Linked DNA regions of Homo sapiens: region 1 is linked to region 2. The links come from fine-mapping of genetic effects on gene expression. A gene starts in region 2. The other region holds a variant in brackets. All regions are shown on one strand. Distances are from middle to middle. Region 1 overlaps LINC01990 (long intergenic non-protein coding RNA 1990). Region 2 holds the start of LINC01990 (long intergenic non-protein coding RNA 1990).

What was found. PIP is the estimated chance that this variant, and not a neighbour inherited with it, causes the effect.
Region 1: its variant is the best candidate, but not a certain one, in a credible set for the expression of LINC01990 in tibial artery (GTEx, PIP 0.90).

What each region holds. Positions count from the first base shown.
Region 1 is chr3:107,458,304-107,463,686 of GRCh38, reverse strand. LINC01990 (long intergenic non-protein coding RNA 1990) reads right to left here. Exons shown (of 3, transcript NR_110039.1): 2 at 2,897-3,014; 3 at 1-1,114. Among named protein-coding and RNA genes, the nearest start is that of LINC01990, 30 kb to the right of the region's middle. The variant A/C (reference allele first, on the strand shown) is at 3,007.
Region 2 is chr3:107,428,706-107,434,088 of GRCh38, reverse strand. It overlaps LINC01990 (long intergenic non-protein coding RNA 1990), which reads right to left and starts at 3,159. Exons shown (of 3, transcript NR_110039.1): 1 at 3,131-3,159. RefSeq lists an enhancer at 1,964-2,153 and a silencer at 2,364-2,613.

The sequences.
Region 1 (5,383 bases), 30 kb before region 2:
GTCTGGTAAATGAGAATAATTCTATCTATCCTCTTATTTATTTCAGAAGAAAAATTTCAGAGTTTTTAAGGTATTTTTTAAAATGGGAAACTTAATAAGGAAATGGCATTACTTCTACTACTACTATTATTATTGTAAATATATTTAGGTATTATTTAATACTTAAGTAATTTTAAGTAATTTATTTAAGTATTATTAGTTTTTAGAATTCGTGACCTCTTATGGCCAAACTGGTTTTTAATAAGCTAGAATTTAGTAATAGGTTTTTTCCATTGAATTAGGTTTTAATAGAACCTAAGTTATTACTTAATGGATAATTTCTACTTGGAAATTGGTAAGACATATTGAGTATACATTAGATATGCTGAAGGGGCTATTTGTCAAAATTACCTGTTTTATAGGTATACTGAACACAATTTTCAATCTGTTATTAGTAGAACAATAATACTGGTCTACTTCATAGGATTTGTGGATTGTACTAAACATATTTAAATTCAAATATGTTTTTTGGCTTCATTGAACTATAATTAACATACGATAAACTGTGCATGTTTAAAGCATACGATGTGATGCATTTTGACACCCTTGCAAGCATCTCCATCAAGGTAGTGAATATATCCACCACCCTCAAAAGTTTCCTTCTGCCTGTTTATCATCCCTTCCTTCCTACCTCTTTTCAGGGTGCCCTTCCCTCCACTCCCTAGGCAATCACTGATCTGCTTGTTTTTCATCACTATTGGGTAGTTAACATTTTCTAGTCTTTTTTTTTTTTTTTTTTTGGTCTGGCCTCTTTCACTCACCATAATTATTTTGAGATTTCTTCCTGTTGTTGGGTGTTGTTTTCCATAGTTTGGTTCATTTTTATTGCTGAGTCAAATTCTGTTGAATACACCATTTTCTGTTTATTCACCATCAAATGTTTTGTATGTATTTATTCTTTTCTTCTCTAAGCTAAACTTCATGTTCACTTCAATTCTGCCTCCCGAAGACTTCATGGTATCACAGGAGTTTTGTTGTCAGCCCATCACATCTGGATCCAAATCACAGCCATATCTCTTGTGAGTGTGTGAACACGGCCTTTGCAGGTTTCTTCTCTGGGCTGCAGTGTCCTTATCTGAAAAATGAGCATAGTAATATGTACCTCTTAGGACTGTTGTAAGGGTGAAATATGTAAAGCATATAGAACAAAACTTGGCACACAGTAAGTGCTATCTGGTTGGTAGTTATTATTATTACCGTCATTAATTGCATATGATATGTTTGGTAGAACTTCCAGCCCATAATAAACTCTCAACAAATGTTAGCTATTATTATTATTCATACTAATATCACTATAGCACATAACAACTCTTCATTTCTTTCCTTCCTTCCTTGTCCCTCTTATGTTTTCAGTCTCTTCACTATTTTTGTTACTAATAGTACCCGTGTTACCTGACCAGGCAAAATAAAGGAGGGCAGTGATTTCCAAAGTATGATCCCAGAACCAGCAACATTAGCACTGATTTGGGAACTCATTAGAAATGCAAATTCTCAGGCCCCACCCCAGACCTACTGAATCAGAAACTCTGGGGGATGGGGCCATGGTCTGTGTTTTAACAAGCCTGCCAGGTGATTCTGATATAGCTAAAGTTTGAAAACTAGTGCAGTCGGGTAATCGCCAGGCTGGTGCAGGAGTTAATGCAGGCTCAGTTCACGTCAACTTTCTTGTTAGGAAAAGCACACTGTTGACTAATTGAGCTTAATATCAACTAAAACCCCTAAGTCCTTTTCACACATGTTGCTGCTAATCCCCATATTCTCCATCTAGCACTTGTACAGGATTCTTTTTGGACTGAAGTATAAGTCTTTACATTTATCCCTATTAAACTTAATCTTGTTAGATTCGGCCCATCGCTTCAGTCATGTTTGGGGAAATTTTAGTTCAGCTGGAATGAACCATGACAAAAAAGCAGGGCCCAGAGACCAAGGAGGAATGTTACAAGGACAACATCCTTTTATATATTGGCCGAATACTGGCCAATGAGATACTGACTATGGTGGGCTTCTAATTAAACACTTGAGACCCTGGGGGGATGTGGTAATTTGATTTCAGTTTAATTCAACTAACATTTATTGGGCACCTACCAAGTTCCTGGCTGTGAACAAGGTACCAGAGGGGGTGCTAAATAGCTCACTCTTTAATGTCAGATATTAATGTCTACTATCTGACATTAGTAGTAGAGACAAGTAGAGATGAAGGGGTTTTTGGTTTTGGTTTTGTAGCAGGCACATTGTAGCCCAATATACCAATACTCACAAGTTCCTTAAGGAAGATAACTAATATTCTTTGAGCACCAGATCCTCCACCATATGCTTTGTTGACACTTCCATATTTAATTTTCAAAGCAATCATAGGAATGATTGCCCCATATAAATTTGAGGAAACATAGATACAGAGGTTAATGCATTTCTTCAAGGTCACACAGGTAGTTAGCAATAGAGCCAGAGGATGCTCCAAATCTGTATGGATTTAAAGAACATACTGCATATAAGCTTTCTCCTTGTGATCAAGAAAATTAAGCTCTTTAAATATCAAAACCCCTAGTAGCTTAAAGTCCAACCATAAACTATTGATTTATAATAGTTAGGTTTAAAATCCTAAAAACATTAAAATAGCGATACATTACCTAGTCCTATATACACAGAATAGTGCATTTAGCTGTGCTCACAGTCCTAATTTAAAACAACAACAACAACAACAACAACAAAACTTATGTTTGGGCCAGGCGCCGTGGCTCATGCCTGTAATCCTAGCACTCTGGGAGGCCGAGGCAGGTGGATCACTTGAGGTCAGGAGTTCGAGACCAGCCTTGCCAACATGGTGAAACCCTGTCTCTACTAAAAATACAAAAATTACCTGGTCGTGGTGATGCATGTCTGTTATCCCAGCTACTCAGGAGGCTGAGGCAGGAGAATCACTTGAACCAGGAAGGCGGAGGTTGCAGTGAGCCAAGATCGCGCCATTGC[A/C]CTCCAGCCTAGGGGACAGAGCAAGACTCCATCTCAAAAAAAAACTTATGTTTGGTTTTGTTTTTATTTGCCTCTTTTAAAGTGTTAGCCACATATTTTAATCCATCTATATCACAATATTATTATATAAATATACAATATTAATACAATATTATTAATATTATAACTCCAAGTTGTTACCTGTAGCAACCAAATCTTTGGAAAATATATAATTTTATCCTCTAGGGGGCAAAACTAATCAATTCTATTCTAGCAGGTAATAGCTGTTATATTTTACTGATACATAATGTGCATTTTAGTAAAGTATCTTGTAGTGTAATGGAAAGACACTGGACTTGGAGTCTAAAGATAAAAATTTGCTTCCACTTACTAGCTATCTCACCCTGGGCAAAAAAATTTAACTTATATAAACCTCAGTTTTTAGATCTCTAAAATGGGATGATAATGTTCATGGGGTTGTGAAAATTAACTGAAATAGTATTTATGAAGTTTCTCTGTGGTCTGGTAATGTTTTACAAATATAAGGTTTTTTTAAACTTATCTATTTTACAAGCTACCAAAATGTGAAATATTTTGGACACTTCTGCCACCTACACATCTACCTAATTCATAGAGTAGAATTTGAAATTTTTGAACTTCTCTGAAAATGCATCCATTCTTTCATAGTTTCTTTTTAGCAGTAGAGTTTCCTGTAGAATTACATACAAGCAGTGGAATAGAACTGATATTGAAATTCTAGATTCTGTTTGTTAACTTGCATTTCAAAGATAAATTCTGTTTAACCAGCATTAATATTGTCAACACTACTGGCATCATCATTATAAAAAGATTCCCACTAGGTGCCAGCATGCCTGAAGCCATGTGCTATGGTTGTATAAAGTGAGTTAAGCTGGTAAGAAGCCTAGTTCTTTAGGACTTTATAATATGGGCAGACTTTACATGAATAGGGGAAAAAATAAAGATATGCATTTGAATCCCTGGATTTAAACCCCTGCTGTATCCCTTATTAGGTGTATGACCCTAGGCAAATGACAGTCTTTTAAACTTCAATTTATTCATCTTTATAATTGGGATAACAGTACCTACCTGATAGAGATGTTGTGAGAATTAAATGCTATGTTATGGATAGAGTGCTTAGTACAATAGCAGTATTTAATGCCCAGTTAATATCAGATATTATCTGAGCTAAGAACTCTATACTGCAATATCAAACTCCTAAACTTTTCATCTTTCTTTTCTGGTCCTCATACCATGCAAAAATGGGGTTACTCTGATAATAATGAATAAATGTGAAGCCTGGAAATTACTGTCAATCACCTGCACTGCTACATTAACCCCCTGGAATCACAGAGTCTTAGAGTAGGAACCCCAGACTTCGAAAGTCATTTAGACCAATGACCTTGTTTTGCAAATGGGGAAACTGAGATCCACTCAGGTTAAGTGTCCTATCCAAGGCTATAGAGCTAGTTTGTGATGAAGCTGGACTAAAATCTGGGCTCTACACTCAAAGTATGTCACTCTCCCTCCTCCATACTGTCTCCCTAGACAGCTTGGTCATTTTAATCCCTTCTTATATTTGCCTTGCCAATAGGACCATGCTGTTCTGGCCTGCTGCCAATTTAGGCTGTCCAGTTCCAGCCAAGTCTTCATGGTTAATCTTGTTATTCATCTCCTCTTTTTTTCCTAGCATGTAAGTTTCACAATGTATTTAGCAGGGGGAAAAACCCAAAACCTGCCTTTGTTTTCCAAATAAAACCTTATTTGTGTCAAAAAAAAAAAAGTGAAATCAATAAAAGCTTCCTTGTTTGGATAGGGATGGGTTGTGAGTCCACAGGCCCATAGGCTCAGCTCAGACCCTTCATTCCCATTCCCTCTAAAGTGGTCCCTGAGGGAGTTCTACTGAACTCTCAGGTTTCTCTTAGCAACACAGTTTAAAAGTTACTATCTCACATGTACACTTAACAATGGTTATTCCTGGGGACTCTCAACTTGTCAGGAGCATCTCAGGCCACTTCCATATGTGTAATCCTGTTTAGCATTTCTGTATTTTTTAATACGCTAAACAGGATTACACAAATTATGACATATTTTAAATGTTCCCACTCAATAGATTAACATTTTAAATTCAGATAAAAAATTGATGACAGCAGGTGTGGCCTCCTTTTGATATAACACCAGAAGTTGAAAATTGAGATACTTCCACTTCCATCCCCAACTTGGCATTGGCCCTTACTTTTCTTAACTTGGCCTGTTCCTCAATTCTCAAGATCCAACTCAACCATCATTTAATGGGTGTCCACTATGTGTTAAGTTCCCCAGTAGGTACTTGGGCCACAAAGATGAAAAAGATATAATCTTTGCTCTTCAAGCAAGTAGC
Region 2 (5,383 bases):
AAGCAGGGGACAGCACTATATGTGCAGAGGACTACAGCGTGTTTAGTATTGCTTAAAGTTTGATGAGAGGCAGAATTGTGGGTGATGAAAAGTAGTAATATCATGTAATATTTTATCTGCCTTCTTCATAAGTCTAATTTTAATTTTATCCTGTAGAATGGATGGGAGATCAGCAAATGATTTTAGGTAAAGGAAATAATTTGCTCAGAGTTGTTGAGAAAAGGCAGTAGTCTGCATGGTTCTCTCTTTCTTTCTTTCTTTTGAGAGAGGGTCTCTCTGTTGCCCAGGCTGGTACACAGTGGTGCACTATGGCTCACTGCAGCCTTGACCTCCTGGGCTCAAGCAACACTCCCATCTCAGCCTCCTGAATAGCTGCACTACAGGTGCACACCACCACACCTAGGCCGGAGTGCAGTGGCATGACCATGGCTCACTGCAGCCATGAATTTATGGGTTCAAATGATCCTCCCACCTCAGCCTCCTGAGTAGCTAGGACTACAGGATGCACCACCATGCCCATTTTTTTTTCTTTTTGCAGAGATAGGGTGGGGGTGGGGCTGGGGGTTGCGGGGGGGGGAGTGATGGATTGTCTGTGTTGCTCAGGCTGGTCTTGAACTTCTACTATCCTCCTGCCTTGGCCTCCCAAAGTGCTGGGATTACAAGCATGAGCCACCATGCCTGGCCCCCATTTTCCTTTATAATATTAGCGTTCTTACCAGGTAACATGAGCAGAAATGAAATAATCGAGTTTCACACGGTTTCTCTCTCCCTCTGGGAGAGAAACTAGATTAACAGTCAAAAATCCAGAAGGCAAGCAATTTGAAGGGGAAACTAAGGATAATCAAGATTTGACTGTACACTTTTTGTAACTGTTGAATTATTTACCTTCTTTGACTCCTCCTGGACTGAGCCAATGTAGTCTGGATAGTAGAAAGGACCTTAGCCAAGAAACCAGGAACAGCCTCTCTGAATCTCTTTCTGCAATTGTGTGTTTCCAGAAAAATTGCTTCTTTGAGTTTGTTTTCTGATCAGGAAAATGAGGAAGTTTGATTACATCAAGGCTTCTCAAGTTCTAATTCTATCACATTCACCTAAGGTGGTTCCAAAATATACAGATTCCCAGATCTGACTGAAGGACACATTGTAGAGGTTGGGCTGAGGTCTCTGTATCAGACTGGGCGTAAAGTGTAATGTCCTGTCCTGCCACTTATTAACTGGGTGACCTAGAGTAAGTTACTTCATGACTCGTATATTTCTCATAGGTAAAGCAGGGATGATAATATCTCTACTTCATATGTCCCCGGGAGGGTAAAATGATAGAATCCTTTTTAAGTAGCAAGTATATTGCCTGTCACATATTAATCATTCAACAGATGTTATATATTATTTGTATAGCCCACAGTATTCACTGTGTGTGTGTGTGTGTGTGTGCGCGCGCGCGTTTGGTGCAAGGTAGACGATCCATAAGTATCTGCTGCGTAAATAAAAGTTGTTTTTTTTTTTTTAGCAACTTCTTTTGTTCTCAGATCTGAAATGATTAGCCCAGGAATTACTTCCCTAAAAAGGTAAAGCTAGTTTGAGAGAACTGCTTAAATGTGGCGCTCAATCTTTGCTATCTTAGACTGAGAGCCTCATGATAATTAAAAAATAATTTAAAGATGAAAGTCCTACTAGAGTGGGCGAGCTGATTACGAAAAGGAATGAGCCTCAGAGACTGTTAGCCGGATCCAGCCGGCCACTGCGTAATCCACTCCAGTGACTCTCACCTAGGTGCGCATCTCCATTTTATCTCACAAGATGCCGTGAAATTCTCAAAGTCATTGTAACTACAATTGATTTTGAATCACAAAAAAAGCAATATTCCATTTTCCGTGTTGTTGACCAAGCAGAAAACAGAACGTAACTTTTAAAACGCTTGAAAATCAGGGCTATCAAAAATAGAGAACTTCTATTCGCCATGAACTCGCTGATGCAAACAATCAACGCACACTGAACCGTGTGTTTTTCTGGGTGGTGGTGGTCCCTCGCCAAATAGTCAGCGTTTGGTTCTCCGCGTCTGTAGCGAGAGGAGTTACAGTTTGGTACCGGCAGGGAGGAAATCGCCTCGCAATCTCTGGAGGTGGCCTCCTAGAAAGATCGCCGGGAGGGGAGGAGCCCCGATTGTCCTGGAAGAAAAGCATGGCCCCATCCGGGAAGTCACAGCTTGCCGGGAGCCCAGGGCTGGCGGCTCTGGGTCCTGGAGGTGGCAGACGGCGGAGCAGCCGGCCTCGTAGCCCGGGCCTGCGCGCCTGGCAAGGGGCTCAGTGTGTGCGAGTGAAAGACGCACACCGGGCGGACCTGCGTGGGCTTCGGCCTCGCCCCGCCGCGCGCGGGGTTGCGGCTGAACCTGACCAGGGCTCATCCCTGCCCGGCGAGGGTAAGGGCGGCCCGGGATCCGCTGCTGCTCGGATGGGAGCCGCTCGGGGCCGGGATCCCTGGGCCTTGCGGGGGCGCGGCAGCCCCTCCCCCCGGAGCCCGCGCTTCCGCCCGAGCCCCGGCGGCGGCGGCGGTGACCGTGGCCCCGCCGCGCCTTCCGCCTGGGAGCTGCCGCCGCCCGCCCGCGCCCTTGTGCACCGCGCCCACAGGCCGCGGGAACCCAGAGCGCCCGGGCCCAGGGGCCTCTGCCGCGCGACTGAGACGCACTCCGAGCTGGACGTGTGGAAGGTTCGGCCAGCTCGGCGTTTCGCCCCCGCTGGGGATGGGCCACTGGGCACCTGCAGCCACCCAAGAGCGGGGAGTTGGCCGGGCCCTGGCCAGGGGCCGCCGCCACAGCGTACTGGCAGGGAGAACAGAGCTAGCTAAGCCTCCTTCCTCTCCCAGATTCCCAGGGAAACTGGACAGCCCGACGCCCAGAGCGGACGGGCGAGAGCCCCTGAGGTGCCAAGTGGACCCCGGTTCTGCTGCTGCCACTGGCCGATTGGGGACGCCGGCACTTGCGCTGTGGGCGTGTGGTGGGGCATTTCCGTTATCCTCTCGAAGACACCCCGCCACTATTCCTGCTCAAACAAGCACAGTCTGGTGTGCAAGCCGACCGTACCTCCTCCCCTCCCTCCTTTCTTGCACGCACCTTCGTTCGTCTATCTATTCTTACCTTCTTCCCCAGAGCGCCAAGACAAATGTGGACAAGAGTGAAGAAGTTAGGATACTGCCAAGTGTGTGTGTATTGGGGTGGGGGGGTAGTAATAAGCGGGGAGAAAGTGATGAAAATAAAATTAGAAATCCCAGAGTATGTAGCAACACACACACACACACACACACGCACACACACACGTTCCCAGCCTGTTAGCAATCTTGGCTATGTCCAAGTGGAAGCAAATTTTAATGCTCGGTCTCAGAAGAAAATTTCACATATACAGGCTTCAGAGGTAACGGGGTAACCGATAGCTTCCTTTTACTTCTCGGCATTTATTTTTGCTTTTCTGAAGCATAGTCCTATGTTTATTAAAGGGACCACAGGAGTACACGCTGTTTGAAAGCCATTCCTGGACACCACTGAGGCCGGCTTCCCAGGGAGCCTTTGTCGCCTCTGCAGCAGAGGTCACTGGACTCTCCTCAAGGTGTAATGTGAGGGAACAGGTGCCTCGGGGGCTTGGGAAAACACCACGCTGTGCTCTGATGTGTGTCCCCATCCCGGGAGAAGGCAAGTGCTTTGCATAAGGACCAGATGGGTTGCTGAATAGGGAGGTGGAAAACAAATAGACCCTTGGGTGTATCTTGAACCCCTTCAACACCCCCCCTTCCCCACTCCCCGCCTTCACCGAAGCAGTGTCAGAGTCCTCTTCGATCCAGCATGCTCTCCTACAATGGCGAAAAACTGCATTAAAACGAGGCAGTCGGAGCTGACTGCGGAAACCCATGTTCTTAGAGAGTCGTCTGGCTACTGCGTAGTCCTGGAATATTCTTTTTTTCAAAAGGCCTCTTCCAGTTGATTCCAACCGGGTTCGGGTTATTGTTCTCACCACCGATAGGGGGCAGCAGGTGTCCTGCGATGCCCCGGGGATGTGCGCGCAGACTGCCCTGCTGTCCCCGGGAATCCGACTACACTGAACGTTTGGGGCAGAAGCAGGAGCTGCTGCCTCTAAGTCCACCGCAGCAGCTGCCGGGACTTGGGCCTCCCAGCCTGGGCGCCTGGGGGGGGCTTGCCCTGTGCAAAGGGTGGGCGAAACCATCTGTGCACCAAGCCTGCCCCTAAACTTAGCGTACAGCATAGATAAATAAACTCAGTTGTATGCAAATGCTATAATTAAAATATACAGTCATTTGAAAGTACTGTAGGCTCTATTGGAGTTTTTAATTGTTTTTGAGTTTTCTCAATCAGTAGAGAATTTAAAAATACGGCTATCACAGTCTGTTTGGAGGGTGGTGGTCTGTTACGTTGAATTTTAAAAGGGCGTCTGTCCCTAGAAGTTGGGAACTACTGATCCACAGAATCGTTTGATAACCGTGGTAAAGATTCCGAGGCATCTCGGAAGGGAAACTGGGAGGACTGAGCTAGTCCTAGCAGGGTGTGTGTCCGCCCGCGCCGCGAGGCGTGGGCAACACAGCCCCATCCCGGGAGCGCGGAGCTATGGCAGCTGGGATTGGTTCAGATCGAGAGTCCTGAGGGGCTGGGATTTCCTGAAAACCTACTTCACTTGGTAAGCCAGAGCGCTTGAGTTTTCGGAATTCCCGAGGAAAGGTTCTATATATTCTCCAAATCCACATTTTCTCAGATATAAGCACTTTTTCCCTAAATTAAAAATATATTTGGGGTTTGTGGAGCAGTAATTTTTTTGGAAGAAAGAAAAATCCAATGTAAAAATGTAGAGACTAGCTATTATAGTCATCTCTAAATAGATTTTTGAAGTGATAACGGCTAAATTATCCAAATGAAAAAAAATGTGTAATAGTAGTAACAAGGCTGTGCCCCTACTTTATGAATCTCACGCACAATTAAAAACTCTAATCCCTGAAATACCTTTGGAAGGGAGGGAAGGATTACAGACTAATTATAGGATTTATAACACAACACTAAGATGTTTTCATTTTATTACAATAATGAACAAAACATTGATGATATCTACTTTTAATGTAATTCTTCCAACATCATAACAGATTTTAGAAATGCAACCATAACCACTAGAGAAGGGAAGAATTTCAATAGCACACTAAATTGTCAGAAATTTCATTAACATGGAAAGTTCATATCATGATGTCAGAATATAGACTCTCTTCAAATTAATGATGAATACTAATTAAAGTCAGAACATTTGTAGGAAAGTATAAAATCTGTATCTGAGAGGGGAGAGGAGGAATTAGAGGAAGGAAAGGTCAGGGAAGTAATGTGAGTAAATCTGAGGGGGAG